Homo sapiens: one gene and its partner. Each later gene encodes a partner of the first gene's protein in a complex. Each region holds a gene or a part of one and is shown in the gene's direction. Other genes may lie near its edges.

The links.
Region 2: the proteins of PLEKHM1 (region 1) and MAP1LC3C are in contact, whole or in part, in a crystal structure (PDB 5DPW), measured with the Homo sapiens proteins. Residues at the interface, in NP_055613.1 of Homo sapiens: Glu632, Asp633, Glu634, Trp635, Val636, Asn637, Val638, Gln639, Tyr640; in NP_001004343.1 of Homo sapiens: Phe13 (codon at 9,331), Arg16 (codon at 9,340), Lys17 (codon at 9,343), Glu25 (codon at 9,486), Ile29 (codon at 9,498), Phe33 (codon at 9,510), Lys36 (codon at 9,519), Pro38 (codon at 9,525), Asp54 (codon at 9,728), Lys55 (codon at 9,731), Thr56 (codon at 9,734), Lys57 (codon at 9,737), Phe58 (codon at 9,740), Leu59 (codon at 9,743), Val60 (codon at 9,746), Pro61 (codon at 9,749), Glu63 (codon at 9,755), Leu64 (codon at 9,758), Ile72 (codon at 9,782), Arg76 (codon at 11,922), Phe114 (codon at 12,036).

The regions. Positions count from the first base shown.
Region 1 is NC_000017.11:45,484,383-45,499,714, reverse strand, and holds the start of PLEKHM1 (pleckstrin homology domain-containing family M member 1), read left to right. Parts: upstream 1-8,993; 5' UTR 8,994-9,063; exon of another isoform or gene 9,064-10,478; intron 10,479-11,852; exon of another isoform or gene 11,853-11,933; coding exon of another isoform or gene 11,934-11,987; intron 11,988-15,332. UniProt on the Homo sapiens protein: Acts as a multivalent adapter protein that regulates Rab7-dependent and HOPS complex-dependent fusion events in the endolysosomal system and couples autophagic and the endocytic trafficking pathways.
Region 2 is NC_000001.11:241,992,371-242,008,302, reverse strand, and holds MAP1LC3C (microtubule-associated protein 1 light chain 3 gamma), read left to right. Parts: upstream 1-9,204; 5' UTR 9,205-9,294; coding exon 9,295-9,352; intron 9,353-9,471; coding exon 9,472-9,527; intron 9,528-9,682; coding exon 9,683-9,789; intron 9,790-11,917; coding exon 11,918-12,140; 3' UTR 12,141-12,813; downstream 12,814-15,932.

The DNA.
Region 1 (15,332 bases):
CAGGCTAATAAAAGTAGAGGCATGAGGAACCTAGGGTTGTTCTGAAGTGCCTTGATTATGGTATATGTGGAAGATTTTAGAGCTTGTTGTAAAAAGTGATGACCCATGGCCCCCCAGGCTGGGTCTGGGATTGCCTTTGTGGATTACAAGAGGATATTATGCAGCAGTTTTTAAAAATGAGGCAGACTGGGACAATCTATCTCCAAGATGCATAGGTGCTGTTAAGGGAACAAAGCAAGATTTAGTAGGGCGTGTATAGTATGCTACTGTGCACTGTGCGTTATCTGTACAGAACTGTGAGGTCTGATACAGTAGCCACTAGCCACATATGGCTATTTACATATAAACTTAGGTTGGCCACAGTGGCTCATGCCTGTAATCCTAGCACTTTGGGAGGCCAAGTGGGAGGATAGCTTGAGGCCAATAGTTCAAGAACACCCTGGGCAACATAGTGAAGCCCCTTTTCTACAAAAAATTTATTTATTTTTATTTTTTTTGAGACGGGTCTCACTCTGTCACCCAGGCTGCAGTGCAGTGGCGCAGTCTCAGCTTATTACAACATCTGTCTCCTGGGTTCAAGCGATTATCGTGCCTCAGCCTCCAAGTAGCTGGGACTACAGGCACGCACCACCATACCCAGCAAATTTTTGTATTTTTGGTAGAGACAAGGTTTCGCCATGTTGGCCAGGCTGGTCTCGAACTCCTGACCTCAGGTGATCTGCCCGCCTCAGCCTCCCAAAGTGCTGAGATTACAGGCATGAGCCACTGCGCCCAGGCAAAAAATTTAAAATAGTAAAAATCAGCCAAACATGGTGGCATTCATCTGTAGTCCCAGCAACTTAGGAGGCTGAGGTGGGAGGATTTCTTGAGCCCAGGAGGTCAAGGTTGCAGTGACCTATGACTGCACCACTGCACTCCAGCCTGGACAACAGAGTGAGGCCCTGTCTCAAAAAATAAATAAATAGGAGTTTGAGGCCATGTTCACACTCACTGCAGTCCAGTCTGGTAAACAGAGCAAGACGCTGAGTCTTTAAAAAAAAAAAAATTTTTTTTAAAGTCAGCTGCTAAGACACACTAGCCACATATCAAGTGCTCAACTGCCCCGTGTGGCTAATGGCTTCCAAACTGGCAGCACAGGCAACTGTTTTCATCACTGAAGTTCTGTTGGACAAGAATACCTCTGGAAGCACACACGAGAAACTGGTAATGGCGGTTGCCTTCGGGGAGGGAAACTGGGAGAGTGCAGGGCTGTATGCCCTTTTGTACCTCTTGAATTTCATATCATGCGTTTGTACTAGGTGTTTACAAATTATTTTAAAAACATACTGGGAATTAGGAATCCCCATATGGAATCACTGCAGTGGGACACTGATTCCCAAAAAATTACTTTGCAATTTGCCTAAAACAAATTAAGCTAATAGCTATCATGATTTCATATTTAATATTTTTTCACAGCTTAGAGTTTTTTTAGCTCCTGTTGCTATCTCTCTGCTCTTATGAGCTCACAGGGTGACAAAGTGAATTAGTAAGTAGCAGGAGAACATTAAAGGAAAAACTCCTGGGCAACAGGGCAAAACGCCGGCTCTACAGAAAATACAAAACATTAGCCAGGCATGGTGGCATGCACCTATGGTCTTAGCGACTTGGGAGGCTGAGGTGGGAGGATCGCTTGAGCCCGGAAGGCGGTAACTCAATCCCAGCAGAATCCCAGGGAGCGAAGGTGGCTCATCCCAAAAGAAAAACAAGAAGGAAATTCTATTACCAGAAGACAAAGGGATGAAATGAGGGATGGAGAATCAAAGACTGAAGCTACTAGGGTTTGTTTTTATTAATATTTAATTTTTTCAGAGGCAAGGGTCTCAGCATGTTGCCCAGGCTGGCCTTGAACTCCTGGCCTCAAGCAATCCTCCTGCCTGAGCCTTCCGAGTTGTTGGGATTACAGATATGAGCCACTGCATCCAACTTTGGTTCTTGTTTGTCTGTTTTGTTTTGTTTTGTTTTTTTGACAGAGTTTTGCTGTGCCACCCAGGCTGGAGTGCAGTGACTCAGCCTCGGCTCACTGCAGCCTTGACCTTCTGGCCTCAAGTGATCCTCCCACCTCAGCGCCAACCCCCACTGCCCTCCAATATCTGGGACTACAGGTGCGCGTGACCGCGCACAGCTAATTTTTAAATTTTTTGTAGAGATAGGGTTTCACTATGTGGCTCAGGCTGGTCTCCAACTCCTGGACTAAGCGATCTGCCTGCCTTGGCCACCTCCCAAAGTGTGAGCCACCGTGCCCACCCATTGAACATTGAAGCTAGACTGGGCAAACCCTTAAGCCTAAACCAGTAACAGTTTTTCACAAGTTCATAGATGTTACTGTGGTTAATAACACACAAATTCATTTAAAAGCATGTGTGTCCTCATAGTAATTTTTGGTCCTTATTTTTATTTTTATTTTTCAGTTAATGGATATTAAAGATACAACTTTATTTTGTTTTTTTTGAGACAGGGTCTCACTCTGTCGCCCAGGCTGGAGTGCAGTGGCATGATCAGAGCTCATTGCAACCTCCACCTCCTGGGTTCAAGAGATTCTCCTCCCTCAGCTTCCTGAGTAGCTGGGATTGCAGGTACATGCAACCACACCTGGCTAATTTTTGTACTTTTTGTAGAGATAGGGTTTTACCATGTTGCTCACGCTGGTTTTGAACTCCTGAGCTCAAGTGATCCACCTGCCTCGGCCTCCCAAACTGCTGGGATTACACACGTGAGCCACCACACCCGGCCTAAAGATATAATTTCTATCATGAGGAGATCCAAGAACTATTCTCTTTTTCTTTTTTTAATGTTAGAAAGGGATTCTTAACTGAGTATGTGCTGCAGCAAAGGGAGGGGAAATTAAGCAAGAAGAGAAGGGAGCCAGGAAATAAAGGCCCCAACCCAGGAAGCAGTTAAGCAAAGTTCCAGGATGACCACATGTGACAAGTTTAGGGGATAACTTGAGCACATGGAGGACAGAACTTGGAGAGGGCACTGTGGGCCTGGGCGCCACCTGCTCCACCAGAGCACTGGAAGAGAACGATGGCACGATAATGGCAGATGGCACTGAAAGAAAAGGAGAGAGCTTGAGGCACCCTTGGGGGAAGCAGCCATCATCAGAGTGTATTTTATTTTTATTTTATTATATTTTGAGATAGAGTCTCACTCTGTTGCCCAGGCTGGAGTGCAGTGGCATGATCTCGGCTCACTGCAACCTCCACCTCCCAGGTTCCAGTGATTCTCTGCCTCAGCCTCCCAAGTAGCTGAGACTACAGGGGGCACCACCACACCGGCTAATTTTTGTATTTTTAGTAGAGATGGGGTTTCTCCATGTTGGCCAGGTTGGTCTTGAACTCCCGACCTCAGGTGATCCGCCCACCTTGGCCTCCCGAAGTGCTGGGATTACAGGCGTGAGCCACCATGCCTGACCTCACAGCACATTATTAAGCTCTGTGGTGAATAATATTTATATAGTCACAATTCTGTAAACACTGTTCATTTTCTACAAATTGTGGCAAACCCAAACCTCAAGAATGGACAGGGCTGGGGTGTAAAAGAGCTAAGTCCTTGCCAGGTTTACCAGGAAGGCAACAGACAGTGTCTAAAACTATGAGACAGCTGGGCGCGGTGGCTCACGCCTGTAATCCCAGCACTTTGGGAGGCCAAGGCAGGTGGATCACGTGAGGTCAGGAGTTTGAGATCAGCCTTGACAACATGGTGAAACCCCGCGTCTACTAAAAATATCAAATTAGCTGGGCATGGTGGCAGGTGCCTGTAATCCCAGCTAGTAGGGAGGCTGAGGCAGGAGCATTGCTTGAACCCAGGAGGGGGAGGTTGCAGTGAGCCAAGATGGCACCACTGCACTCCAGCCTGGGTGACAGAGTGAGACTGTGTCTCAAAAAAATAATAAAATACAAACAATGAGACGTGCAGGAGATGTGGGGAGAAGCACCAGAAGATTCTGCTGAAAGCCTGCTCCCCAGAAGGGTGGGAACAATAGGGACAATGAACTGCTGTTGTTCGTTATGTTTCATCCCCATTCCGTTTCATTTTATTGAATTGTAAACCGTGTGTATAACAACACTTTTTAATCAATTTTTTAAAAAAGAGAGAGTGGAAAGAAACCGCTTCCTACAACAGAACTGAAGAGCACACCAGTGATTACAGTGTCCAGAGAGGAGGGTGCATTAACACTAGTTTTATTATTTCAATCAGATGCCAAGCAAGAATATATCTGGGGTTCAGACAAGAAAGGCTCTCATTCAAGTGCTTACAAGAGCAATGGAAGGCAAGGACCTGCCCAATTGGCAGGGTGAAAATTAGCCACAACTAGAATAGTAACAACTGTTCATCTTTGAGCACTTACTACAGGCCAGAACTTGCATTAAGGATATCATCTTTTTCTTTTCTTTTTTTCTTTTCCTTTTTTTTTTTTTTTTTTTGTTGTTGTTGTTTTGGAACAGAGTCTCACTCTGTCATGTAGGCTGCAGTGCAGTGGCGCAATCTCAGCTCACTGCAACCTCAGCCTCCCAGGTTCAAGCGATTCTTGTGCCTCAGCCTCACAAGTACCTGGGACTACAGGCATGAACCACCATGCCTGGCTAATTTTTGTATCTTTGGTAGAGATGGGGTTTCACCATGTTGGCCAGGCTGGTTTCGAACTCCTGGCCTCAAGTAATCCACCCACCTCAGCCTCCCAAAGTTATGGGATTACAGGCGTGAGCCACTGTGCCCAGCCAGGATATCATGATATTTACTCCTCACATCAACTGACATTAGCCCCTATTTACAATGAGGAACTGAGGCTCAGAGAGGTTTTGGCACTTGCCTGAGGTCACACACTCTGGGCTCTCTGCTTGGGGCTGAGGGCGAAGGGGCGTTGTGACTTACTTCTCTTTCCTGAACATCAATAAAATTCAATTTAGAAATTTCTGTCTTCAGTGCGATCTCAACGGGCCTGTGAAAAATGCTGACTCGGTGGCAGCTGTCAGCTATCTTAGCCCCATACTCATTGGGTTGCCCTGGGCCCCACACTGTTTTAAGGAAGTCCCAGCAAACAATATGGGATAGAGATGAGATTCAAACCTAAACAGCCCTGGCTCTAAAATCCACTGAACAAAGCTGAAACTAGAATCAGAAAGAACTAGGTAAGAATCCTACTTCTAGCACTTACTACTTCTGTGGCTGTGGCCCCCCCGCAAGTTACTTAACCTCTTTTTTTTTTTTTTTTAAGAGATGAAGTCTCGCTCTGTCACCAGGCTGGAGTGCAGTGGCGTGATCTCGGTTCACTGCAACCTCTGCCTCCTGGGTTCAAGCGATTCTCCTGCTTCAGCCTCCCAAGTAGCTGGGACTACAGATGCGTGCTACCACGCCCAGCTAATTCTTTGTATTTTAGTAGAGACAGGGTTTCACCATGTTGGCCAGGATGGTCTGGATCTCTTGATCTCATGATCCACCCACCTCGGCCTCCCAAAGTGCTGGGATTACAGGCATGAGCCACCGCACCTGGCCACTTAACCTCTTTTAAGCCTATTTTCTCATCCATACAATAGAGATAATGGCAGCACCCACCTTTCAGGTGGCTGGTAAGGAATATTAGGTGAACACAGGTGCCTATGTATGTTCTTCCATTTTCCATAAATGTTAATTCCCTTATCCCTCATCTCCTAGGTTAGTCCCGGAGGACAGACTTGAACTTTGAAAACAGAAAGTAACTGCCAAAAGGGATTATTTAGGGCACAGATTTCCCCCTTTCATTATCCTTTAGGTCCTCAGTGGTGAGGGCAGGGGACAGGAGAGGTGGGGTGAAGCCCAAATTCTTGGACCTCATCCTAGAGTGACTCTTTAGGGTTAGTGTGGGGCTTAGGAATCTGCATTTTGGACCTGTCCCCAGGGCATTCTGATGCCTACAGTTCTCCTGTGTGGCTTTGAATAACGCTGGGTAGTGCTTTAAATCCAAGCTGACAGACCAGTGGGATGTGAACCATCCTTGCAAATGGTTTGAGCCCTTTCTGCACTGGCCTCCAACTTTGCCTTGCTCAGTCTTCAGCTCCCCTTCCATTCTGGCCCTCTCCCCTTACCCTTTCCTTTTTCACTTCCTTTTATTTTTATTTATTTTTATTATTATTTAAAAAAAATTTTTTTTGAGACAGGATCTCACTCTGTCGCCCAGGCTGTAGTGCAGTGGCATTATCTTGGCTCACTGCAATCTCCGCCTCCCGGGTTCAAGCAATTCTCATACCTCAGCCTCCTTAGTAGCTGGGACTACAGACACACACCACCACACCTGGCTAATTTTTGTATTTTTAGTAGAGATGGGCTTTCACCATGTTGGCCAGGCAGGTCTCGAACTCCTGACCTCAAGTGATCCACCAGCTTCGGCCACCCAAAGTGCTGGGATTACAGGCATGACCCACCGTGCCCAGCCTCCTTTTTCACTTCCCACCTTCCTCCCCACCTCTGGGTGCACCCTTCCCTGAGCTCAGCCTGTATTCCTATGTGCTGGCCACTTACCAGCCAGTCCCTTCAGCTGCAATACCCTTTACTCACCTAGAAAGCTCATATCAAAAGTCGCCTCCTCCAGAATACCTCTCAAGTTCTCCTCTCTGGTCCCTTGGCCCTTTGCAGGTACCTTTTTTCTTGCGCAAGTCACGTGATAATGTAAGGGTTTTTTTTTTTTTTTTCCCCCCCATCTGGAGCCTGCCTGGTGGGCTCAGGGTCCATTTGTGCAAACATGCATTTCCCTCTCCTCTGCGCCCCCTCCTTCATGATCCATGCTTTATGCAGCTTCCCCAAGGCATGCAGAGCAAGCTGAGAAGAGGTAGGCAAGCCTGAAGACTTTTCAAAGAAGCAGGGTAGCTTGGGAAGTAAGAGAAGACCAGGAGATAGGGGCTCCTAAAAAGCAGACAAGAGATTACCGAGGGGTTCCCCACAGCTCCAGCACACAGCCGCTGCACAAAAATGCAGTGGAATTACTGAGGGACATTATGTGCTTGATGGGGGACAGGGAATGCTTGTGCCAAGCCACCAAGGATTATGCTGTGCCAGTTGTATACTATCGTTTTGCCAAGGTGAAAGGATTTCCCTACTAAATCCCTTACTTTCCACTTTGTTTAAAATGAGTTTAACACCGAGAGAATAGTTTGTCTCTATGTCCTTATTTCTAATCTTCCTGCTCAACCATTAACTGCAGTAAACACACTCAGACCCATCTAGTCTAAAATTGAGAAGGGGAGGTTCTCACTCCTGGAGAGAGAATTACTGAAAGGGCGGCCCTCATACAGTCCAGGGTCATACCCCCAAGTGCTGGTTTTATACTTGAAAGCAGACAGTGGGACTCTGAACTTTGCAGAGATAAGAGGGACACCTTCCTACCCAGAGAAGCCAAAAGAGCACAGGACGCCCAGGCCGAGGGCAGTGAAGCTTGCTTCCAAGAACTGGCCCGTTCCCCAGCCAACCCCTGTGCCCACTTAGGACTGGCATGTAGCAGTACCTCTCCTCATCCACACTCAGGCCCTAGGCTCCCAATTGACCAAAGCCTGCAAGTATAAAGTGTCCAGAGCATGGGTCCCTGCCAACACTCCCTGCCCTGCTCTTCACTACCTGTGGCCACCACTTATGACATTTTGTTCCGAGTTCATCTGAAAGAGAAATGTCACTTTTGCGTTAGAAAGAAGATATACAGGCCAGGTGTGGTGGTTCATGCCTGTAATCCCAGCACTTTGGGAGGCCGAGTCAGGAGGATCGCCTGAGGCCAGGAGTTGGAGACCAGGTTAGGTAACACAGTGAGACCCCTGTCTCTACAAAATAAACAAATTTTTTTAAAAATGAAAAGATTGGCCGGGCGCGGTGGCTCACGCCTGTGATCCCAGCACTTTGGGAGGCCGAGGCGGGTGGATCACCAGGTCAGGAGATCGAGACCATCCTGGCTAACACGGTGAAACCCCATCTCTACTAAAAACATAAAAAAATTAGCCGGGCGTGGTGGCGGGCTCCTGTAGTCCCAGCTACTCGGGAGGCTGAGGCAGGAGAATGGCGTCAATCCAGGAGGCGGAGCTTGCAGTGAGCCGAGATCGCGCCATTGCACTCCAGCCTGGGCGACAGAGCCAGACTCCGTCGCAAAAAAAAAAAAAAAAAGAAAAAAGAAAAAATTAGCTGGGCGTGGTGGTGCACGCCTGTAGTCCCAGCTGCTTGGAGGCTGAGGTGGGAGAACCACTTAGTCCGTGAGGTCAAAGCTGTGGTGAGCCGTGATCGTGCCACAGCACTCCAGTCTGGGCGACAGAGTGAGACCCTGTCTCAAAAAAAAAGCAGAAAGGAAGAAAGAAATCCTCTACACGGGCTAGAAGAGAATAACCAGACCCCTAAGCTTCAAGCCAGGCGGTGCTAATGGGCGAGTTACACACGGGAGAGTGCCCAAGGGGACCTCAAGGCGTTCCCTTGGGATAAAGTGTGGTCAAAACAGCTATGTTTATCCTGAAAGCGCAAGGCGGAGGCTCCAATTTGGGCCCGGGCTCCGCCCCACGGGCTGCACTGCTGCCCTCGGAGAGGCAAAGATAGGGCAGGCGTTATTAGTCCCACTCACAAGTGGGAACTCTTCAGCTGAGGGAGGCGAAGTGACAGCCCCAATGTTGCACAGATGGTTCTGAGGCCAAACGAGGTCAGGAACCCAGAAGCCAGGATCTAGTTTGACGCAGACCTGCGGGAGGCGGGCGGTAACGGATGCGTTCTCCCTGACACCGGTGCCTTCGCCTCTCTGCGCCCTGCAGGCGCCCCCAGTTCCCCAGCCTCCCAGACCTCGCATCTGCCCCGGGGCTCAGCTCCCAGGGACTTCCGGGAGCAGCTGGCCCCGCCCCAAGGCTCCTTCGGGCTGCGCGATTGGCACCGCGGGCCGGGGCAGGGCCGGAGCGCCGAGCCAACGTGATGGCGTCAGGGGCCGGGGCGCCGCTTCCTGTTGTCAGTGGCCGAGAGACCGCATCGTCGGCTCGGAGGCTGAGGGGCTGCCGCGGCCGGGAGCGCCCCTCGCCTCGCTCCTCGCTCCGCTTGGTGAGTTAGGGGGTCAAGATGCGAGGAGGGCGGCGGAGTGGTGGGAGGGCCGAGGCGCGAACGGGCGGTGGGCCTCCCGCTCCCTCCGCGATTCCCAGCCCCTGGTTACCCTGAGACTGCCCGGCTTCAGGGCCCTCAGCCCTGTCCAGCCCGCGCCCGCTCCTCTCCGACCCAGCCTTCCCCCTGCACCGCCGCTGTGGCCCCGTCCCCTCCGTCTGTCCAGCCCCCAGCCCGCGCCCGCATCCCCTCACCAGCGGTCTTGCTTAAATGCAGCTTCACTCGTGACCCCACTTTACCCCAGTTCCAACACCGATCTCGGCCACGTCCCTTCGCCCCGCCCTGACACACCTCATCCTCTCTCCCCACCCCTCTGGTAATCCCGATGCTCCGCGCTTACCTCCCCGAGACCCACCATTCAGGTTTCCCCTTTTCTGGCTCAGCTTTCTTATCCCAGTCACCCCCATCCCCCGTCTAGCTCCCCAAGATCTGCTCATCCCAAACATTCTACCTCCGCCCTCTCATCTAAGACCCACCCCCAAAGTAGGTGCCCTGTTGAGCTCACCGCTTTCTTCTGGATAACTCCGATCTCAGCCTTATTCCAAGTCTTAACTGTGTCTTCTCGTCCTTAGTCTCCTAGCCACTGTATACCTTCCTTTGCGTCTCCTGCCGTACTGAGGACAGCCCATCCCTAAGTCTTTGCCAAACTGTCCCGAACTCTTGCTGCCTCCTTTCCTACCACCCTCACCCAATCTTGTTAAAAATGACATCTCCATGTCCTTTCACCCCCGCTGACCCACCGCAACTCTTCACCCCAACTCTGCGTCCATTGCTTCCCTCGACCCAACTCCCATTCAACCTGAGAACTTAGTGCAGAGTCGCCTGCCAACTCCACCAGCTGCCCCTCAACAGCCAAATGTAGGTGCTCACTCAGACCCGCAGTTACAGACTGAGCAGCATGATTGGCGGGTGCAGGGGCTCAGGTGGTAAATAAGGGTGGAGGAGCAGTGGGCTCTCCCCAACTCTTGGGTGGGGCCGGGGTTTTTCCTGGCATCTGGTCTCCTGCACCTGTCCTCAGGGATTGTGTTTTTGGCATTCATATTAAATGACTTGTGCTGGCTGCTGGAATGGTAGGTATCATTCAAATATCTGGAAGGTGAGAGACGGCCACTCACTCAGCTCACTTAGCACAGAATGATGGAAGCTGTCACTTCCTTCTGGTTGGTGTTCTCGCCCTGGAGAGCTTCTGGGAAGTTCTGTGTGGTGTTGGCTGTGGTCACAGAATATTGTTCGTGTTCCTTTTCTTGGCACTTGTAAGGGCCTCTCCCTGCCAGAGCTGATGGCAGATCAGTCCTGATGCTGAATTCAGGGGATATGATGGGTGCCAGAGGCAACGTTACCTGTTGTGAAGAGTATAGGTGAGTAGGTCCTGGGGAGGCTGAGGCCTAGGTGGGTACAGAGGCTCTTGAATCGCTTTCTTTTCTTTTAAGTGCTGGATCATTGACTTTTGGCCATCTGGGTTCCATGAACACAGGGAACCATGTTATCTCAGAGTAGCTGAGGCAGAAGGACATTCCAGAGGCACCCAAGTCCCATGCTCAGCATTTATAGTTTCCTGGGGGCTTTTTGGTACACATTTTCTCTGAATCCTGAGGACCCGGCATCAGATGGGTGGGCCATTTGATTGCAGCTTTTTTCTTTCTTTCTTTCTTTTTTTCGACGGAGTTTACTCTTGTTCCCCAGCCTGGAGTGCAGTGGCATGATCTCGGCTCACCGCAACCTCTGCCTCCCAGGTTCAAGCGATTCTCCTGCCTCAGCCTCCCGAGTAGCTGGGATTACAGGCATACACCACCATGCCCGGCTAGTTTTGTATTTTTAGTAGAGATGGGGGTTTCTCTGTGTTGATCAGGCTGGTCTCCAACTCCCGACCTCAGGTGATCCACCCACCTCGGCCTCCCAAAGTGCTGGGATTACGGGCGTGAGCCGCCGCACCTGGCTGATTGCAGTTTTAAAGAGCCCCAAAGAACACTGTCTCTGCTTGCCACTTATAGTCGTATTCCTTTGAAAAGTGAATGCTGTTTACCTTCAATGTCCTCCCATTAATATGCAGTATATTTAAGTTGTTTTCAGCCTTATTGGCAGCTTGGCTTAATGACAGGAGCTCCACAGTTGCCCCAGCACTTAAGAGTTGTATACCCCAACTTCCCACAGTGTGTGAAGTGGAGGTACTTACCCCGTGCCTTGTTTTTATTTTATTAATCAATTCATTCAACAGCTTATTTTTTGAGCACCAGTGTGTGACAAACACTGTTCCAGGTACTAGAAATACAATGGTGAATGGGTCAGGCAACGGTCCTGTTTTCATTCATTCAGAGTTTGGTCCTTGTTAGAATCCTCTGGGATATGGGACAAGAATACAGGAAAGCTGGGTGATACTGGATGGAAGGAAGGAGGGAGGAAAGAAAGATAGCTAGTGTTCACTGACTCCACAATTCTGCCCTCATCCACTAGCCCTGAGTCTGGGAATCACAAGCTAAAAGTTTCTCACCCTTCATCTGGTATTTAATTGCTTCAAAGCTCCAACCCCCACCACTCCACCCATCACAGAAATCCAGCTTTCCTCAGGTGGACAGAGGTGCAGTTTCCTCAGTCAGCACTCACATGCCTGAAAGATCAGCTGCCTTTCTGAATCAGAGGATAACTTTGTCATTCTTTTCCAATTGAAAAAACATGACTCATCAATTGGTACAGCAGTTGGATGGCTTAAAGCCAGGCTGTGGCTCTGAACAGCCAGTTACACAATTCAGGCAGTGGAGAGAAGGCCGTGGGGAGTGGCTGAGGAGTCCCTCAAGAGAAGAGGTTGCTGTTCACTGATGGTGGAGTGTTTTGAGAGTGGTGGAACCAGGTTATCCCTTTCTTCTTTTAACGTAAGTCTCATCCAAGTCATTCTCTTTTTTTGCTTCCTTGATCTCTGGAGGAAGTGAAATTGGACATATAGAGAAGGCCAGGCAGTATAATGCAGGAAACCAACCGGAACTGTTCCTTCCTAACTATGTTGGAACATTTAAGAAAGTATAGCTCTGAGACTTTAGGAGCATTGGTAGGACCTGGTCTCAGCTGGTTGGGGCTATAAACCTGATTGGCAGAACTGTTTCTTGTTGGTTTCAGACCTTCTGTGATGAAATGGAGCTTCCGAGTACCTCTAAAGAAGAAGTAATAGTTTGTCTGAATTTGAGCCAAAGACCTGAGGCCTTTTGGTCCAGGGAAAGATGCAGGAGTTGGGATGAAGAAACCAGAGAGTTCTGTCCCTTACCCGAGACCCATTGCTACTGAGCCTCAGTTTTGTCCTCTGTAAAACAGGGATAATCACTCTCTCACGGGATTGCTGTGAGAATTAAATGAGGTTAGAGAGGGACATCAGAGAAGCTTGCTTTCTGCACTCTGGAGAGCTATGTGAAGGCGAATGAATACACAGGGTGGCAGTAGACTTGGTGTGGTTTGGGGCTTCCTAAATGGCACCAGTCACCTTTCCCCTGCTAAGATTTCACCCGTCATGTTCAAGAGCCCTTTGGTACTGTTGCCCAGCTTTGCCTCACTCCCTTCAGGTAGGTCTCCTTGAAGCCACACCTCTCTTCACTTTGGTTCTTTGTGTCAATGAAGAGCGTTTTGAGGACAGAAAGTGGAACCAGTTCCATAGGATGGTAGATTCAGAATCTGGGCCACCAGGGTGGGTGACGCAGTACTGTCCCCACAGTCAAGAGACACAAAGCCTCCTTCTGATTCCCGCCGTGAGTTCTTATGTCACTGACCATCTGAGCCCTGCCTCCCTGAGCATGATGGAACAGATACAGATAGGTGGGGTGCTATGGCTGCCTACAAACAGAGGTGTCCTGCATTGTGGCTGGAACCCCAGAGGCTCAGTCCTGTCTTGTGAATTTTCAAGTGGCTCTTCTGCTGGATTTCTCTGAGCTCTTGTCAGTCATTTTGTGGCATTTCTGACTCTGTTTTAGGCCAAGTGACCCTTCTCTTGTCTGGCCCTGTCTCTCTTAGCTTCAGTTTATTATTATTAATTTTTTTTTTTGAGATGGAGTCTCGCTCTGTTGCCCAAGCTGGGGTGCAGTGGCACAATCTTGGCTCACTGCAAGCTCCACCTCCTGGGTCCACGCCATTCTCCTGCCTCAGCCTCCCAAGTAGCTGGGACTACAGGTGCCCGCCCGGCTAATTTTTTGTATTTTTAGTAGAGATGGGGTTTCACCGTGTTAGCCAGGATGGTCTCGATCTCCTGACCTCGTGATCCACCCGCCTCGGCCTCCCAAAGTGCTGGGATTACAGGCGTGAGCCACCGCGCCCAGCCAGCTTCAGTTTATTATTTATTTATTTATTTGAGACATAAATTATTATTATTATTATTATTTTTTTATTTTATCTTTTTTTTTTTGAGACGGAGTCTCTCTCTGTCGCCTAGGCTGGAGTGCAGTGGCGGGATCTCGGCTCACTGCAAGCTCCGCCTCCCAGGTTCACGCCATTCTCCTGCCTCAGCCTCCCGAGTAGCTGGGACTACAGGCGCTCACCACTGCACCCGGCTAATTTTTTTGTATTTTTAGTAGAGACGGGGTTTCACCGTGTTAGCCAGGATGGTCTCGATCTCCTGACCTCGTGATCCGCCGGCCTCGGCCTCCCAAAGTGCTGGGATTACAGGCGTGAGCCACGGCGCCATGCCATAAATTATTTATTTATTTATTTATTCTTGCTTTGCTGCCCCGGCTGGAGTGCAGTGGCATGATCTCGACTCACTGCAACCTCCGCCTCCTGGGTTCAAGTGGTTCTCCTGCCTCAGCCGGTATGGTAGCTGGTAATACCAGTAGCTGGTATTACAGGCATGGGCCACCATGCCTGGCTAATTTTTGTTTTTTTTTTTAATTAGAGATAGGGTTTCACCATGTTGGCCAGGCTGGTCTCAAACTCCTGACCTCAAGTGATCCTCCTGCCTCGGCCTCCCAAAGTGCTGGGATTACAGGTGTGGGCCACGGCACCTGGCCTATTTTGTCTTCTTAGCATACTGTTACTTGGCCAGAGCACTCACTTACCAATGGCCTGCTCCTCCCAGTGAATACTCTGTGAATACTCTATCACTCTCAGCTAATTAGTTAATGAGGTCTTAATGGGCCTGGGCTATAATTCAAATTATTGGGTCTAAGTCCTTAGGGTCCCGGCCCTGTAGCTGGTTAAGGGAAGGGCAACTTTGGGGCTTCGGGCTCTCTCTAGAAGGGTGGGCCTGAGGGCCTCAGGCCACTGGAAATTGTGGACTGGGATTGGAGCCCAGGGTTTCGGAGCCAGAGAAGCTGGACGTGGCCTGCTGAGCTGCAAAAGGGTAGCCTTGATGGAGCCTGACCTCAAGACCAGGCCTGTTTCTGGAAGTGACCCTAGATGCAGAGTCACTGCAGCATACAACCCCCTTTTCCTGTCACCCCGTGGCCAGAATGTGGAACTGGTCTCCAGAGGAGGGCTCTGAGAATCCCTGGGTAGCTGGGAGCAGACTATGGTGAAGGGTGAGGCAGTCAGATGGGGCTGTAGTCAGGACTGAGGGCTCTTCTGGCCATCTGCAGCACCCGGCCTGTTACTGGGTCTGCAGGAACCATCCTCCATACATGCCTGCTTCCTCCTGAGGGACCTGACTTAGGGAGGTTGGCTCTGGGTCCTGACTCCCTGTGTCCTGTTTGCCCTCTGCTATCCCCAGAAGCCAGAGATCCAATCAGAGCACCTTCCACCATTTAGGGCCAGCCTGCCTGTCTGCTTTCCAAACCTCATGCTGCTCCAGGGCTGTCCAGGAAACCTTTCCTGCCACACTGGCCTTAATGTTCCCCTGCACCCCCTGTTCCCGGCCCCCAGCGAAAGGGTCTTCCCAGACCACCCCTGGAATCCTAGCTCTGAGGTGATGGCACTGTTGATGAAAAAGCCAAACTCTGTTAAATATTCGAAGAGGTTTATTCTGAGCCAAATGTGAGGGCCATGACCTGTGACATAGTCCTGGGAGGTCCTGAGAACATGTGCCCAAGGTGATTGGGGTACAGCTTGATTTTTATCCAAGTTACAGGCAGAAGTTACAGGCAAAGACATAAATTGATATATGTAAGGTATACATTGGTGGGGACAGGGTAAGGTGGATTAAAAGATTTTCCTGATTGGCAATTGGCTGAAAAAGTTAAACTTTGCCTAAAGAGTTAAAAGTCAGCAGAAGAAAAGCTTGGGGTTAAGATAAGGTGGGTTGTGAA
Region 2 (15,932 bases), on another chromosome or scaffold:
CACTAGGGTTCAGAAACGTAGTTATGCCATTTGCAGCAGAGAACGACGTATCTTTCAAAAATTAGTTGACCATGAGCCATTTAGAGACAACGTGGCCAGAACTGGCTGTAATGAACTATATTTTCTCTGACTCGTGAAGTCATTAGAGGCAGCAACACATCCTAAAGTGGAAGTGGTGTTTGTAGGATCAGACATGTGCAAAGCCAAGGGCATGAGTAAACTGCATGATCAGGTGGCCCAGAGCCCCAGGAAATCTACCACTGTTGCACCCATATCCCTTCCTTTGTTCACTACTGGCCATTGTAGGGGAGGGTCGCTTGTGATCAACTGACAGAGGAAGAAAAAGGCTAAACTTAATTTACAGATGAGTAGCTTAGTTGGTGGTGCAAGCCAAAAATGGGCTGCACCTGCACCATGGGTAGCCCTGAGAGACAGTGTTGAGGGGAAATCCTCCCGCTGGGCAGAGCTTTGGGCAGCACATCCAGTGCTTCACTTGGGTACATACAGATTCATGGGCTCTGGCAAATGACTTGATAGTTGGTCAGAGGCTTAAAGAAGAAAAACTTGAAGATCAGGATAGAAAAAAAAAAAAGTCTGGAGAAGGGGCATAAGTATGGATCTGTAGACATAGACATGAAATGTAAACATCTATGTATCACACGTTCATGCCCCACAGAGAACATCCACATGGAGGAGGCACTACAATTTTTCTAGTTGACCGGTTGACTTTGGCCACCATCCCTTACTTCTCCCAAGACTGGAACAAGAAATGAATGAGGGATTATCCATGGTGGCAGGGATAGGGGTTATGCATGAGCTCAGCGGCATGGACCCCAACTCACCAGGCCTGATGTAGCTACACTGTTGCCAAATGTCCAATCAGCAGAGACCAGTGCTGAGGACTTGATATAGCACAATCCTCAAGGAGACAACTCAGTGGTAAGTAGACAAAGTTGGCCTCATTCTACCCCATGGAAGGGGTTGCAATTCATTTTGCATTTAATCAACATGTATTCTGGATATGAGTTTGCCTTTCCTGCTTGCTGGACTTCACAAGCAACATCACTCTGTAGCTGGGCATTTTTCCCTGTTAGCAATTTGCATGCAGATAAATCAATTCAACTTTTATAAGCATGTACTATGCGTCAGGCTCTGCGCTAGCTACTGGGGATGCACAGATGAAGTCTTGCCCTCAGTCATGTAATAGCTATTATGGACTTTTAAAAATCCTGCCTTGGGGTAGGATAGCAAGATTTCCGGTTCTAAAATCATTTCACAAGTTAACTAAGCAGATTTTGAGCTTAAATGACTTCATGATTCTGTGGCTCACTTGGGAATGGGAACCAGAATCATTTATTTTCTTTGATGGCCTGACTCTTAAATAAAATGTTTTTATCCCATGTTGATCAGATCAATAAGTATTACTGGTAAGTAGCATCTTTGTTTGTTTGTTTTTTGAGACAGAGTCTTGCTCTGTCACCCAGACTGGAGTGCAATAGCGCCATCTCAGCTCATTTCAACCTCTGCCTTCCAGCTTCAAGTGATTCTCCTGCCTCAGCCTCCCGAGTAGCTGGGACCACAGGCACATGCCCCCATGCCTGCCTAATTTTAAAATTTTTTTGTAGAGACAGGGTCTTGCTATGTTGCCCAGGCTGGTCTTGAACTCCTGGGCTCAAGCAATCCTTCTGCCTTGGCTTCCCAAAGTGCTGGGATTATAGGCGTTAGCCACCACGCCCAGCCAACCTCTTATTTTAGGTGTACACATTTCACTTCCATGTTGTTAGAGTTCCCAAACTTGTTTCTCCCTATATCAGAAAATGTAGGGAGAAAGGATGAATGACAGCAGTCACAGGAAGCAAACTTGATCTATCCCAGTCACTCCCTGAGCCCCAGACACCCACACTTGCTAAGAGGCAATCTTATTTTTAATCACATTGCAAAAGCTGAGTCACCTTAGGAAACTCCTCAGGAATGATTAAAATCATCCCAGAAAAGCATAGAGAACAAGGAGAGAATTGTGGGGGAACCAGGGCAAAGCCAACATCAAGAGTCAGAAAGGCCACTCGTGGCTCTCAAATCTATACATAGTAAGGGCTGGCTGTAGCGATGGTTGCAAGGACTGGTGATCCTTTCAGAACTTCATCTTAAAGCTCCATTTGCCTATCAAGTCTGTTGCATTTTCACAAGATTGCCTACTACAGATAAGAATGCTGACAAGTTTTGTGACCTTTTTTTTTTTTTTTTTTGAGATGGAGTCTGCTCTGTCACTCAGGCTGGAATGCAATGGCACGATCTCGGCTCACTGCAACCTCCACCTGCCGCATTCAAGCAATTCTCTTGCCTCAGCCTCCCAAGTAGCTGGGACTACAGGCATGTGCCACCATGCCTGGCTAATTTTTTGTATTTTCAGTAAAGAAGGGGTTTCACCATGCTGGGCAGGCTGGTTTCAAACTCCTGACCTCATGATCCACCTGCCTCAGCCTCCCAAAGTGTGCTGGGATTACAGGAGTGAGCCACCACTCCCGGCCTTTTTTTTTTTTGGAAGACATTTCGCTCTTGTTGCCCAGGCTGGAGTGCAATGGTATGATCTCGGCTCACCGCAACCTCCACCTCCCAGGTTCAAGCAATTCTCCTGCCTCAGCCTTCTGAGCAGCTGGGATTACAGGCATGCACCACCACGCCCGGCTAATTTTTGTATTTTTTGTAGAGATGGGTTTTCTCCATGTTGGTCAGGCTGGTCTCAAACTCCTGACCTCAGGTGATCCACCCACCTTAGCCTCCCAAAGTGCTGGGGTTACAGGCGTGAGCCACAGCACCTGGCCAGAAATGAGGACATATCTTAGTCACACATATCAGTTGTCCAATCTTGAGACTGGGTTGTCTTACAGGCCCTAAGGAGAAGTGGTCCTGCAAAGGAGGGAGAGGTAGCAGAAGAGGCCAAGAATAAAGGTCAGAGGACAGGGAGAAGAATCCAAAGAATGTGGTGTCTTGAAATCAGAGAGTTTTCAGAATGAGAAAAGAAAATGTTGGCTGGGTGTGGTGGCTCATGCCTATAAGTAATCCCAACACTTTGAGAGGCCAAGGTGGGAGGATCCCTTGAGGCCAGGAGGTCAAAACAAGCCTAGGAAACATAGCAAGGCCTTTTCTCTACAAAAAGTAAAAAAATTAAGCAAGTGTGGTGGTGCATGCCTGTGGTTCCAGTTACTTGGAAGGCTGAGGTAGAAGGATAGCTTGAGCCCAGGAGGTCGAGGCTGCAATGAGCCATGATTATGCCAAGGCACTCCAGTCTGGGCAACAGAGCGAGATCCTGTTACAAAAAAAAAGACAAAAGGAAAAAAGAAAATGGGCTGGATGCAGTGGCTCAGGCCTGTAATCCCAGTACTTTGGGAGGCCAAGGCAGGAGGATCACTCTCAAGCCCAGGAGTTCGAGACCAGCCTGGGCAACATAGTGAGACCCTTGTCTTAAAAAAAATTTTTTTTGAAAAGGAGAAAATGGCCAATTCCAAATGTTGAAGAATCGAAGATGAAATAATAAGATAACGACTAAAAAGAGTGCTTGTGCGTGTGATTGCTGACCTGCCAGGAGCACTGCATGAGTGTTGGGACAGACTCCAGATGGTAGGAGTTGAAGGATTGAAGAGGTGGTGAGCTAAGTGGAAAGAGCTGGGACAGCCCTTTCAAAAGGTTCCAGGAAGTACAAGCAGAGTGGGCTAGGCTCTGAGCTTCACGAGGCATGAGCGATGTGAGAGAACTCCCATTTATTGAGCTCCAACTGTGTCATCTCATACACATGAGTTTATCACATAGATTTCCTCATTCAATCATCTCACAACTCTATGAGACAACTGAAAACATATCCATTCTGCTAACAAATAATATGAATTTCAAAGAAGTTTGCTTTCTTTTTTGTGTGTGTTTTATTATTTATTTTTGAAATGGTGTCTTGCTCTGTTGCCCAGGCTGGAGTACAGTGGTGCGATCTCGGCTCACTGAAACCTCTGCCTCCTGGGTTCAAGGGATTCTTTTGCCTCAGCCTCCCAAGTAGCTGGGATTACAGGCCCCCACCACCATGCCGGCTAATTTTTATATTTTTAGTAAAGACAGGGTTTCACCTTGTTGGCCAGGCTGGCCTTGGACTCCTGATCTTAAGTGATCCACCCAATTCAGCCTCCCAAGTAGCTGGGATTACAGGCCCCCACCACCATGCCGGCTAATTTTTGTATTTTTAGTAAAGACGGGGTTTCACCTTGTTGGCCAGGCTGGCCTTGGACTCCTGATCTTCAGTGATCCACCCACCTCAGCCTCCCAAAGTGCTGGGATTATAGGCGTGAGACACCAAGCCAACCTATTAGCATTTGTAGTAGAGACAGGGGTCTCACTTTGTTGCCCAGATCAGTCTCAAACTCCTGTCTCAAAGCAATCTTCTCAGTTCAGCCTCCCAAAGTGCTGGGATTACAGGCATGAGCCACTGCACCCGGCCAGTTTTTTGTTTACTAAAATATTAGTAGACTGGACATGGTGGCCCATGCCTGTAATCCCAGCACTTTGGGAGGCTTAGGCAGGATTGCTTGAGCCCAGGAGTATGAGGCCAGCCTAGGCAACATAGGGAGACTCCATCTCTACAAATAATTTAAAAAATTAGCCAGGCACGGTGGTGTGAGCCTATGGTCTCAGCTACTTGGGAGGCTGAGCCAAGAGGATCACCTGAGCCCAGAAGGTTGATGCTGCAGTGAGCTGTGATCATTCCACTGCACTCCAGGCTGGGCAACAGAGTGAGACCCTGTCTCAAAAACACAAAACAAAACAAAAAAGAAATTAAAATATTGATAGACAGACCTCCTGATCCAGCGAGGGCACTCTTGCTCCAGCTGTTCGCCACAGGACTGTTCTTATTTCCTTCCCCATGGTCCATGTAGCATCCATAGTGTGTGGTTTTGGTCACCTCCCAGCCACCTAGGTCTCACTCCACTGCCAGAGGAGCACCAGCCAGGAGCACGATGCCATCAGACGACACACCAGACACTGCTCCCCTCAAAAGATGGCTTTCAACCCCCAAAAAAAGAAAAGAAAAAAAAACTGGCCGGGCACCATGGCTCATGCCTGTAAACCCAGCACTTTGGGAGGCCGAGGCTGGTGGATCACCTGAGGTCGGGAGTTCAAGACCAGCCTACCAACATGGAGAAACCCCGTCTCTACTAAAAATACAAAATTAGCTGGGCGTGGTGGCGCATGCCTGTAATACCAGCTACTTGGGAGGCTGAGGCAAGTGAATCGCTTGAACCTGGAAGGCGGAGGTTGCGGTGAACCGAGATCGTGCCATTGCACTCCAGCCTGGGCAACAAGAGCAAAACTCCGTCTCCCTCCGCCCCCTCCAAAAAAAAAAAAAGAAAAGAAAAGAAAAGGAAAAAACGATCCAGCCCATTCCTCTGCCTGAAAGATGATGCATTCTGGAAGTGTTGCTGCATTTTGTTTTTTCCCAGTGCTTCATTCTATTACCTCCTTCATCTCCATTCCATCTGAGAGGCAAGCCTGCTTGGACTAGATAGCAATCTCCATGCCTCAGCCCAGAAAGTCAAACGCAAGGCAGTTAAGAAGCATCTCAAAGCCCTTATAATCATTGACCAAACACCACAGCTGGGATTGATTTTCTCCTGGCCCCAACTGAGCACTGTTTCCTTCTACCTCTGCCTTCAGCATTCAGACCTCAATGCACATAAGGATTCTTCGGATTATAAAGATTTGGGGGAACCATGGCTTGGGGAAGTGACGGGAAGATACATACACTGAGGAACAGTGGCAGGCACTATGCTAGCTGCTTTACAGAAACCAGTTCATTTAAGCCTCACATAACTATTCTGAGTTACAGATTACCATAACCATTAAAAGCCGTATTTAGTAAAGTGAAGCCATGTATCCAAGATCAGAAATTAAGGTGCATAGGTGGGAGGGCCAGGCTTGGAACCAACTTTGCCTGGTCTTAGAGTCTGGGCTGCCCCTGGAGATTGGCCAATCTGGGTTGGATCCCGGCGCAGTTTGCATTCTGGCTGAATGATCTAGACCACAGCAGTGTGAGCATCCTGCCTGCCCTTCCCACATGCAAGGCAACTGGGAAAGTTTACATGAGATTGCAGATTTGAAAGGTACTTTAGCACAGAGCACTGCACACTTGCTCCTTACTATTCACACCTGACGGGATGCCTTCTTTTTTAAGACAGAGAAAGAGGACGAGGCCACTTATCTCTTCAATGATGCCATCATTTAATCTCTTGACATCTATTTCTTATCATTGAGCTAAAGCCCCAAGAGTCAGGCCCTTCAATTCACCAGCAAATGTACTATCTCCTTCTCCTTTGTCACATTTTGTTCATTTTAATACTCTTCACTGCTGAATGACTACAGAAAATCATGGCATACACTGCTAACAATAAAGGAAATGCAAGCCTTCTGGCCATGCAGTGTCTGAAGGGCTACCTGGATGGGCGTAAGTACCAGGAAGCAACTCCTGGCCGTGGGAACTGGAAGAGCTGTGTCTTGCCCTTCCTAGCCCTTTTGAGTCCAGGCAAGGGATTAATTTCTCAGGCCCTGTGATATTGAGAAATACATGTTTAGTTTTCATTCAATTTCCTGGAATACAAGTTCTAAAAATTCTTGGAATTTTCTTTTTTGTTTGTTTCTGTTTTTTGTTTTTGAGACGAAGTCTCACTCTGTTGCCCAGGCTGGAGTGCAGTGGTGCAATCTCGGCTCACTTCAACCTCCACCTCCTGGGTTCAAGTGATTCTCCTACCTCAGGATTCTGAGTAGCTGGGATTACAGGTACCCACCACCATGCCTGGCAAATTATTGTATTTATAGTGAAGACGGGGGTTTCACCATGATGGCCAAGTGGATCTTGAACTCCTGACCTCAGGTGATCTGCCCACCTCCGCCTCCTAAAGTACTGGGATTACAGGTGTGAGCCACTGCACCTGGTGGAATCCTTGGAATTTTCAAAGTGGTAAGTGTCTTTTTTTATTTTTATTTTTTTCTGAGGTGGAGTCTCGCTCCGTTGCCCAGGCTGGAGTGCAGTGGCACAATCTCAGCTTACTGCAAGCTCCACCTCCCAGGTTCAAGCCATTCTCCTACCTCAGTCTCCCTAGTAGCTGGGATTACAGGCACCCACCACAACGCCCAGCTAATTTTTTTGTATTTTAGTAGAGACAGGGTTTCATGATGTTGGCCAAGCTGGTCTCAAACTCCTGACCTCAAGTGATCCGCCCACCTTGGTCTCCCAAAGTGCTGGGATTACAGGCATGAGCCACCATGCCCGGCAATAAGTGTCTTTTTTTAGTTCATCAGTTGACTGACGGCTAGCAGTCCCTGGGTAGCTTTGGATGGGGGCTGGTCGCCAGAAAGACAAAGGTGAGATTAGAGGGTTGGAATTTTTAGCCCCACCTCCAGCCTCTGGGGAGGGTAGAGGGGTTGAAAGTTAAATTGATTACCAGTGGCCAATGGTTTAATCAATCTTGCTTACATAATGAAGCCTCCGTAAAAACCCAAAAGGCCTAGGTTCTGCTAGCTGAACACGTGGAGGTTCCTGGAGGGTGGTATGCCCTTCCCCCATACCTCGCTATGCATCTCTTCATCTGTACCCTTTGTGATATCCTCTGTAATAAGCCGGTAAAAGTGTTTCCCTGAGTTCTGTGAGTCATTCTAGCCAATTAATGAAACCCAAGGCGGGGGCTGTGGGAAGCCTGACTTATGTCCCATAGATCAGAAGCACAGGGAAAACAAGCTAGGGGCTGGGCGCAGTGGCTCACGCATGAGATCCCAGCTCTTTGGGAGGCCAAGGCAGGAGGATCACAAGGTCAGGAGTTTCAGACCAGCCTAGCCAACATGGCGAAACCCCCTCTCTACTAAAAACACACAAATTAGCCAGGCATGGTGTCATGTGCCTGTAATCCCAGCTACTCGGGAGAAATCGCTTGAACTCAGGAGGCAGAGATTGCAGTGAGCTGAGATCGTGCCACTACATTCCAGCCTGGGCAACAGAGCAAGACTCTGTTTCAAACAAGCAAAAAAACAACAAACACAACTTGGGGCTTGCAATCGGCATTGAAAGTGGGGGACAGTCTTGTGGGACAGAGCCCTCAGCCCGATCTGATGCTGTCTCCAGGTAGACAGTGTCAGAGTTGGATTGGAGGACACCTAGCTGGTGTCCACTGTAGAAGTGATTGCTCGGTGTATGGGGAACCCCCACCCACCCACACACACACACACACATCTAGTGTCAAAAGTGATCTGTGTTGTGAGAATATAGGAGAAATGGAGTTTGGTTTCCCCTATGTATGACCAGAGACCCAGTTTCTTAACTCTAAAAGCAAGATCTTGGGGACAATTGTCCTTCCTTCCTTCTTTTATCCCAGAGAAAACTAAGTGACAGAATATACTGGAGTGTAGTACTTGGACTTCCTTGTAACAACTCTGGGTTTTTTTTGTTTTGTTTTGTTTTGTTTTGAGATGAAGTTTCGCTCTTGTTGCCGAGGCTGGAGTGCAATGGTGTGACCTGAGCTCACTACAACCTCCGCATCCTGGGTTCAAGCGATTCTCTTGCCTCAGCCTCCTGAGTAGGTGGGATTACAGGTGCCAGCCACCACGTCCGGCTAATTTTTGTATTTTTAGTAGAGATGGGGTTTCAGCATGTTGGCCAGGTGATCCACCCGCCTCGGCCTCCCACGTGCTGGGATTACAGGCGTGGGCCACTGCACCCAGTGTACAGCTCTAGGTTTTAATCCATACCGCTTCTCTTACTTGCTGTGTGCCCTCGAGCAAATCACTTCACCTTTCTTAGTATAGGTTTCCTTCTGTGATAAAGGGCATGGACCATTGTGAGAACTACACAGCACACTTCAGGCTGAGGTGGATCCAGCTTGGACCCCCCCTTGCTACTGAAGGGCAAAAACATCCCAGCACAAGGCAGTTTTACCTCTCCACAGTCCGCTGCCCAGCCAATGATTTTATTACAAACCCTAATTTCTTTTGCAAAGAAACATCTTGAACTGGTCATGAACAAAGTGGCTTTCTCTGACCAGCAAGCAGGTGGCGATTCCATTTCCATCAGAACTGACCTCCTGCTGCCCAGGGAGGGGGAGTGGGGAGAGGGGAGGGAGAGGAGAGGCCTGATGTCACTCAGCCCTACATAAGGGCCTCCTTCAGGCTCCTGCAGGCAGTTTGGAAGCAGCTGGAGGAATGAGTTAGGTTCCCGGTTGCGGGACAGTTTTTTTTTCTTTTTTAAAACAGACACAGCTACTGAGTGCAATGCCGCCTCCACAGAAAATCCCAAGCGTCAGACCCTTCAAGCAGAGGAAAAGCTTGGGTAAATTTCTTGGGGTAGCTTTCTGGGTTATCTAAAGAGAGGAGCGGATCTGGCCTTCTCTTGATCTTTGCTTCTTTTCTTGATCTTTGCTTCTTCTCTTGTGCTTGAAATATTCACAGCAATCAGACAAGAGGAAGTTGCTGGAATCCGGGCAAAGTTCCCCAACAAAATCCCGGTAAGACACCACTGGACTTCCGCTGGGGGGCGTGGGGGTGGGGTTCCGATCCTGTTCTCTGAAAAACCAAGAGCAGCCAACAGCTTCCCTCTGTCTGTTCCAAGTTCCTAACACTCACGCTGAGTCACATTCTTAAGGACTGACACTCTTGACAGGTGGTAGTGGAGCGCTACCCCAGGGAGACGTTCCTGCCCCCGCTGGACAAAACCAAGTTCCTGGTCCCGCAGGAGCTGACCATGACCCAGTTCCTCAGCATCATCCGGTAGGTGGCGCAGAGCGTGCCCCGGAGGAAGGTGCGCTGGGTGCGCCGGGGCTGTTGGGCTTTCTTCGTTTGGCAGTTTTATTTTGGGGATGGGGGCACGTCAGGGGAAGAGAGGAAAGAGATTTTTTTGAAGTCACCTTTTAGATTCACTAGTACCCTGAAAAGATGCTCTTAGAATTACTCTATTTTAAACCCCGGGCGGAGTGGCTCATGCCTGTAATCCCAGCACTCTGGGAGGCTGAGGCAGGTGGATCGCAGAGGTCAGGAGTTTGAGACCAGCCTGGCCAACGTGGTGAAACCCTGTCTCTACTAAAAATACAAAAATTAGCTAGGCGTGGTGGCGGGTGCCTGTAATCCTAGCTACTTGGGAGGCTGAGGCAGGAGAATCGCTTGAACCTGGGAGGCGGAGGTTACAGTGAGCCGAGACTGTTCCACTGCACTCCTGGGCAACAAGAGTGAAACTCTGTCTCAAAAAAAAAAAAAAAAAAAAAAGAATTACTCTATTTTAAACAGGTAAGGAGAATCCCTCAGACAACGACAACAACAAAAAAGACCTGCCAACATTTCTAAGAATTTCCTAAAGTAGTTAGTCTTGGCTCTCAAGCTAGGCCGGGAGATCCTTTCTTTCAGATCTTGTGTGAAACCGAGTCTGCGCGTCCGTTGCAGAGACCAGCACCTTTTCCAAGTGTATGTGTGCCTAGGGGTGGGGACTTCTCCCCAAAGGAAACGTTCCCTGCTCAGAACACTGAGAGAGAAAAGCATCCCCCAAACACACTCCTCCCTTGGTTAAGCCAGAGGTACAGCAAAGAACAGGCAGCTATTCTTAAAGCATAAAGGACATCACTTGACACATGGATTCAGTAAAAAATGATTTGGGAGTAAAGTAAATATACCCGATGAGTAAGTTTTCAACAGGGTTGAAAAGTGCTTGGAAGCTGCATCGCTGTTGCAGCCTGTTTTTTTGAGAACACACGATGAATGAGTGTCTTTTTATTTTGCTTTATTTAGCTCTGTCGCCTAGGCTGGAGTGCAGTGGTGTGAACCTAGTTCACTGCAGCCTTGGCCTTCTGGGCTCAGGCGATCCTCCCATCTCAGCCTCCTGAGTAGCTGGGACTACAGGAAAGCACCACCGTGCCCGGCTAATTTTAAAAATGTTCTGTAGAGATGGGGGTCTCACGATGTTGCCCAGGCCTCTTTTTATTTTGTTTTACTGAGTTAAGAGCATTCTGATTTCCTCTCTCTAGGCAAACTTACATGTTAAAGTTAGTTCAGTGTGAATGGAAGATGGCCAAGGGAGAATGAAAGTTAGGATTAGGGCCAGGCGCAGTGGCTCACACTGTAATCCCAGCACTTTGGGAAGCCAAGGCAGGGCAGATTACCTGAGGTCAGGAGTTCAAGAGCAGCCTGGCCAACATGGCAAAACCCCGTCTCTACTAAAAATACAAAAATTACCCAGGTGTGGTGTTGCGTGCCTGTCATCCCAGCTACTTGGGAGGTTGAGGCAGGGGAATCAAAAAAAAAAAGTGAAATATCAGCGAGACTGTGCATCACCTTTGTACTTCTAGGGAAATAGCTTTAATTTCTTTTCTTTTTTTTTTTTTTTTGAGACGCAGTCTTGCTCTGTCACCAGGCTGGAGTACAGTGGCGCAATTTCGGCTCACTGCAACCTCCGCCTCCTGGTTCTCCTGCCTCAGCCTCCCGAGTAGCTGGGACTACAGGTTCACGCCACCACACCCAGCTAATTTTTGTATTTTTAGTACAGACCAGGTTTCACCATGTTGGCCAGGATGGCCTCGATTTCTTGACCTCGTGAGCTGCCTGCCTCAGCTTCCCAAAGTGCTGGGATTAGAGGTGTGAGCCACTGCATCCAGCCCAATAGCTTTAATTTCATAGCAAATGGAAGTTATTTGCTTAGCATTTTTGTGTTGTCATGTTTCCTCAACCTGTTTGTGTTGTCATATTTCATCCATGGAATGGCCTCACCCTTTTGACCCAAATGGGAAGCCTTGTAGTTCCTAAATCTCAGGGAAGAAGAAGGGAGCAATTCAGTCTTCTTGAGTGTCATGAGGCTGCAGATCCCTGGGCTGTCTCGCAGGCCATACCCTCACCACCCTCCTGCCCATCCCAGGAGCCGCATGGTCCTGAGAGCCACGGAAGCCTTTTACTTGCTGGTGAACAACAAGAGCCTGGTCAGCATGAGCGCAACCATGGCAGAGATCTACAGAGACTACAAGGATGAGGATGGCTTCGTGTACATGACCTACGCCTCCCAGGAGACATTTGGCTGCCTGGAGTCAGCAGCCCCCAGGGATGGGAGCAGCCTTGAGGACAGACCCTGCAATCCTCTCTAGCCCATGTCGGGAAGGATGTGTGCTCTGACAGACGTGTCAGATGCTGGCAGAAGGGATTGGTTTTCTCCTGTGTATACAGTGGAGGAGTCTGAGAAGCAGGGATGCCTGGGGTGATCAGCTCCAACCAGTGGCAGCAGAGTGGTGGCTCTTCCTAGTTTAGTTTTTGTGCTCCGTGTTCTTGTGTCCTTCTAAGAAAAATGTGGGCTGCTCTTGAAAGTTATATAATTATCATTTTTTTTTTTTTGAAACAGGGTCTTGCTCTATTGCCTAGGCTGGAGCACAGTGGCATGATCTTGGCTCACTGCAACCTCCGCCTCCTGGGTTCAAGTGATTCTTCTGCCTCCACCCCCCGAGTGGCTGGTATTACAAGCACATGCCACCACACCAGGCTAATTTTTGTATTTTTAGTAGAGACGGGGTTTCACCATGTTGGCCAGGCTGGTCTCGAACTCCTGACCTCAGGTGATCCACCCACCTCGGCCTCCCAAAGTGCTGGGATTACAGGCGTGAGCCACTGCATCCAGCCATATAACCGTATTCTAAATAAGAAATGGTTGGCTTGTGTGATGGTTTTGTGTAATGAGCTAGAGATAATATTTTAAGTGTCTTCTGTGGTATATGTGGGAGGGCCATTAAGGAGTGGGTTTCACTCCCTGCATGTGGGCAGGTGTCCCATCTAGGGCTCGGTACTAGAGAATCTCTGGCCTGTAGGCTGTCTCTGTGGAACCCAGTGAAGCCAGCGTGAACAATGGTAAGCTCATCTGGAGGTGCTCTTATCTGTGTCATTAGAGAGATTATTCGATTTCCCCAGCATTCACTCTATTTAGTTATTTTCTGTCATTCTCTTTTTGTCTTTCTATACCATACATATTTATGCCAAAGCTGTAACTTCTCAACATGAAGTCATTTAAACCATGTGCATGTTTACTATGTGCCAAGCTGTATTCTAAAATAAATATTCTTTATTTTAAAGGAGCTTTATTCTTTGGCTTCTTATCACAACTCTCTATGGCTAACTACTGTTACAGTTAACCCACACAATGGGTGGGTTTGATCGCTTGGTGGGTGACGGTCCAATGACTACTCCCAAGGAGGATTTAAAAAGGGGATTTTATTAATTCTAACACGTAAGGAGGACACTGGGGATAGTTCCCAAAGCAGTGCCTCCCTGAACAAAAGTGAATGCAGGGCATTTATTGGGCAGAGGTGGAGTCAAGGAGTACAGGCGCAGTCACCGGCCATGCTTCCACATATGTTGCCTGTGTATAAAATAGTGAATAAGCTTCTCCCTAGGAGGAGATTTTTTTTCCCCCATTAATGAGCTTTCTATTATTATCTTTTTTTTTTTTTTTTTGAGACAGAGTCTCGCTCTGTCACCCAGGCTGCAGTGCAGTGGTGCTATCTCAGCTCACTGCAACCTCCGCCTCCTGGCTTCAAGCGATTCTCCTGCCTCAGCTTCCCCAGTAGCTGGGATTACAGGCATGCGCCACCACGCCCAGCTAATTTTGTATTTTTTGTAGAGTTTTTGTATTTTTAGTAGAGTTTCTCCATGTTGGTCAGGCTGGTCTCGAACTCCTGACCTCGGGTGATCTGCCCACCTCGGCCTCCCAAAGTGCTAGGATTACAGGCATGAGCCACTGCACCCGGGTTTTTTTTTTTTTTTTTTAATCGTAGGTTTCTTACTGGTCCTGCTTCCATGAGTGGCTGTGACCAGGGGAAAAGGAAGAGGAACCTGTCGGCACAGGGAGGGGTCATCTTCACAACATTCCATTTAAACACAGAACTAGACAAGCACAGAGTCACTATTGTGGTTAGAAGTTGGCAGCATGGGGCCGGGCGCAGTGGCTCATCCCTGTAATCCTAGCGCTTTGGGAGGCTGAGGTGGGCAGATTGCCTGAACTCAGGAGTTCAAGACCAGCCTGGGCAACACGGTGAAACCCCATCTCTACTTAAATACAAAAAATTAGCCGGGCATGACAGTGCACACCTGTAGTCCCAGCTACTGGGGAGGCTGAAGCAGGAAAATTGCTTGAACCCAGGAGGTGGAGGTTGCAGTGAGCTGTGATCACGTCACTGCACTCCAGCCTGGGCAACAGAGTGAGACTCTGTCTCAAAAAAAAAAAAAAAAAAAAAAAATAGTTGGCAGCATGGGAAGGGGAAGGAACAGGTGGGGAGTGCGGGTGTTGTTAAAAAAAATACAGTCTCCCTCACAACTCGGGTGCCTGGGGGGAACTTGATCTGCTTCAACCCGAGAGGAATCAGAAGATCCAAAGCAGTCTGGGAAGGCCAGAACCGTCAGGGATGGAGGGAGAAGGAAAATCCACGGTGGGAGGTCTGTTTGGCAACTGGGCTGAAGGGATTGCCCTCCCCCTACTGGGGTCCCTCCAGCCCCTCCGGTCTGGTAGGAAGGGGGCAGCCTGCAACCCCTGAGGGCAGAGGTGGGGCTGCCAGATGCTCCAGGCAGGGAGCCAGAAAGGGCTCACAAAGGCTTGCCCTCCAGGGGGATGAAGGCACTGCCCCCCACCTTCTCTGCCAGGGTGCAGCGGTCCTTGACCTCCTCGTAGCAGTTTGCTTGTAATTCTTGCTTGATCCCTGTCAGCTTCTTCTTGATGGCATTTTTGGAGCTGGCATAGATCATTTTGCTCGTAAGGGGTGCCCATTCAGTGGCCCAGAAGATAAACACCAGGTCCTCCTTCTTGCTCTCCTTGGTCTCATAGATTGTGTCGTAGAGGGCACAGTGGCAGTTCTTATCTGGCAGCATCTTGACAAAGGCGGTGTAGGGGTCATGGATGGTCTGGCCCACGTCACCCACCAGGATCTCATTGCCTTCCCCCAGGATGATGTTCTTGTCCTCACTCAGGCAGAAGAGCACCGTCTTCTGTGCCTCTTCACCTTCTCTGGCGTCAAAGACTTACACACCTTCATGTCGTTGAACACCTTGATGACACCATCAGAGATGACTGAACCTTTTTTTTGTTTGTTTTTGAGATAGGGTCTCACTCTGTCTCCCAGGCTGGAGTGCAGTAGTGCAATCTCGGCTCACTGCAACCTCCACCTCCCGGCTCAAGCGATTCTCCTGACTCAGCCTCCAGAGTAGCTGGGACTATGGAGGTGTGCACCACCATGCCCAGTCAATTTTTTAAATTTTTTGTTGATACGGAGTCTCACTATGTTACCCAGGCTGGTCTCAAACTCCTAGGCTCAAGTGATCCACCCATCTTAGCCTCCTAAAGTGCTAGGATTACAGGCATGAGTCACCGCACAGGCCAGGGAGGGGATTTTTAGTGTGGTAATGAAGAGAGTTCTCCAAAGTTCAGCTCCAACTCAGGCATCTCTGGATCCAGCTGGTTTTTGTGTTTTCCTGGGGTTGAGCTTCTTCCTGGTACTTTTGGAAACAAGAACTTAAGGTGCAGCAGGTCACAAGTGGATATGTTTTCACAGTGCTTGCCCAACAAACTAGCGACCCTGGATTCTATTACTGTCATTTTACAGATAAGGAAACTGAGGCCTAGAAAGATCAAGAATATTTTCCATTTTCACATAACATAGTCTCATCAGGACTTCAGGTTGGGGAGCCACATTTACAAGCCATGCTGCTAGCTTTCTGCTGGGCTCCCTACCTAAGTTGAAGTGACTTTACTTGACAAGGACGGGAAACTTGAGCTACAGTGTTGAGTGACACTAACACAACCTACAGAGGGGACAGGAGGTACAGTAGAGCTCCATGAATGCATTAACCATAGGGTATTTCAAGGCCGGGCGTTGTCACTCACACCTGTAATCCCAGCATTT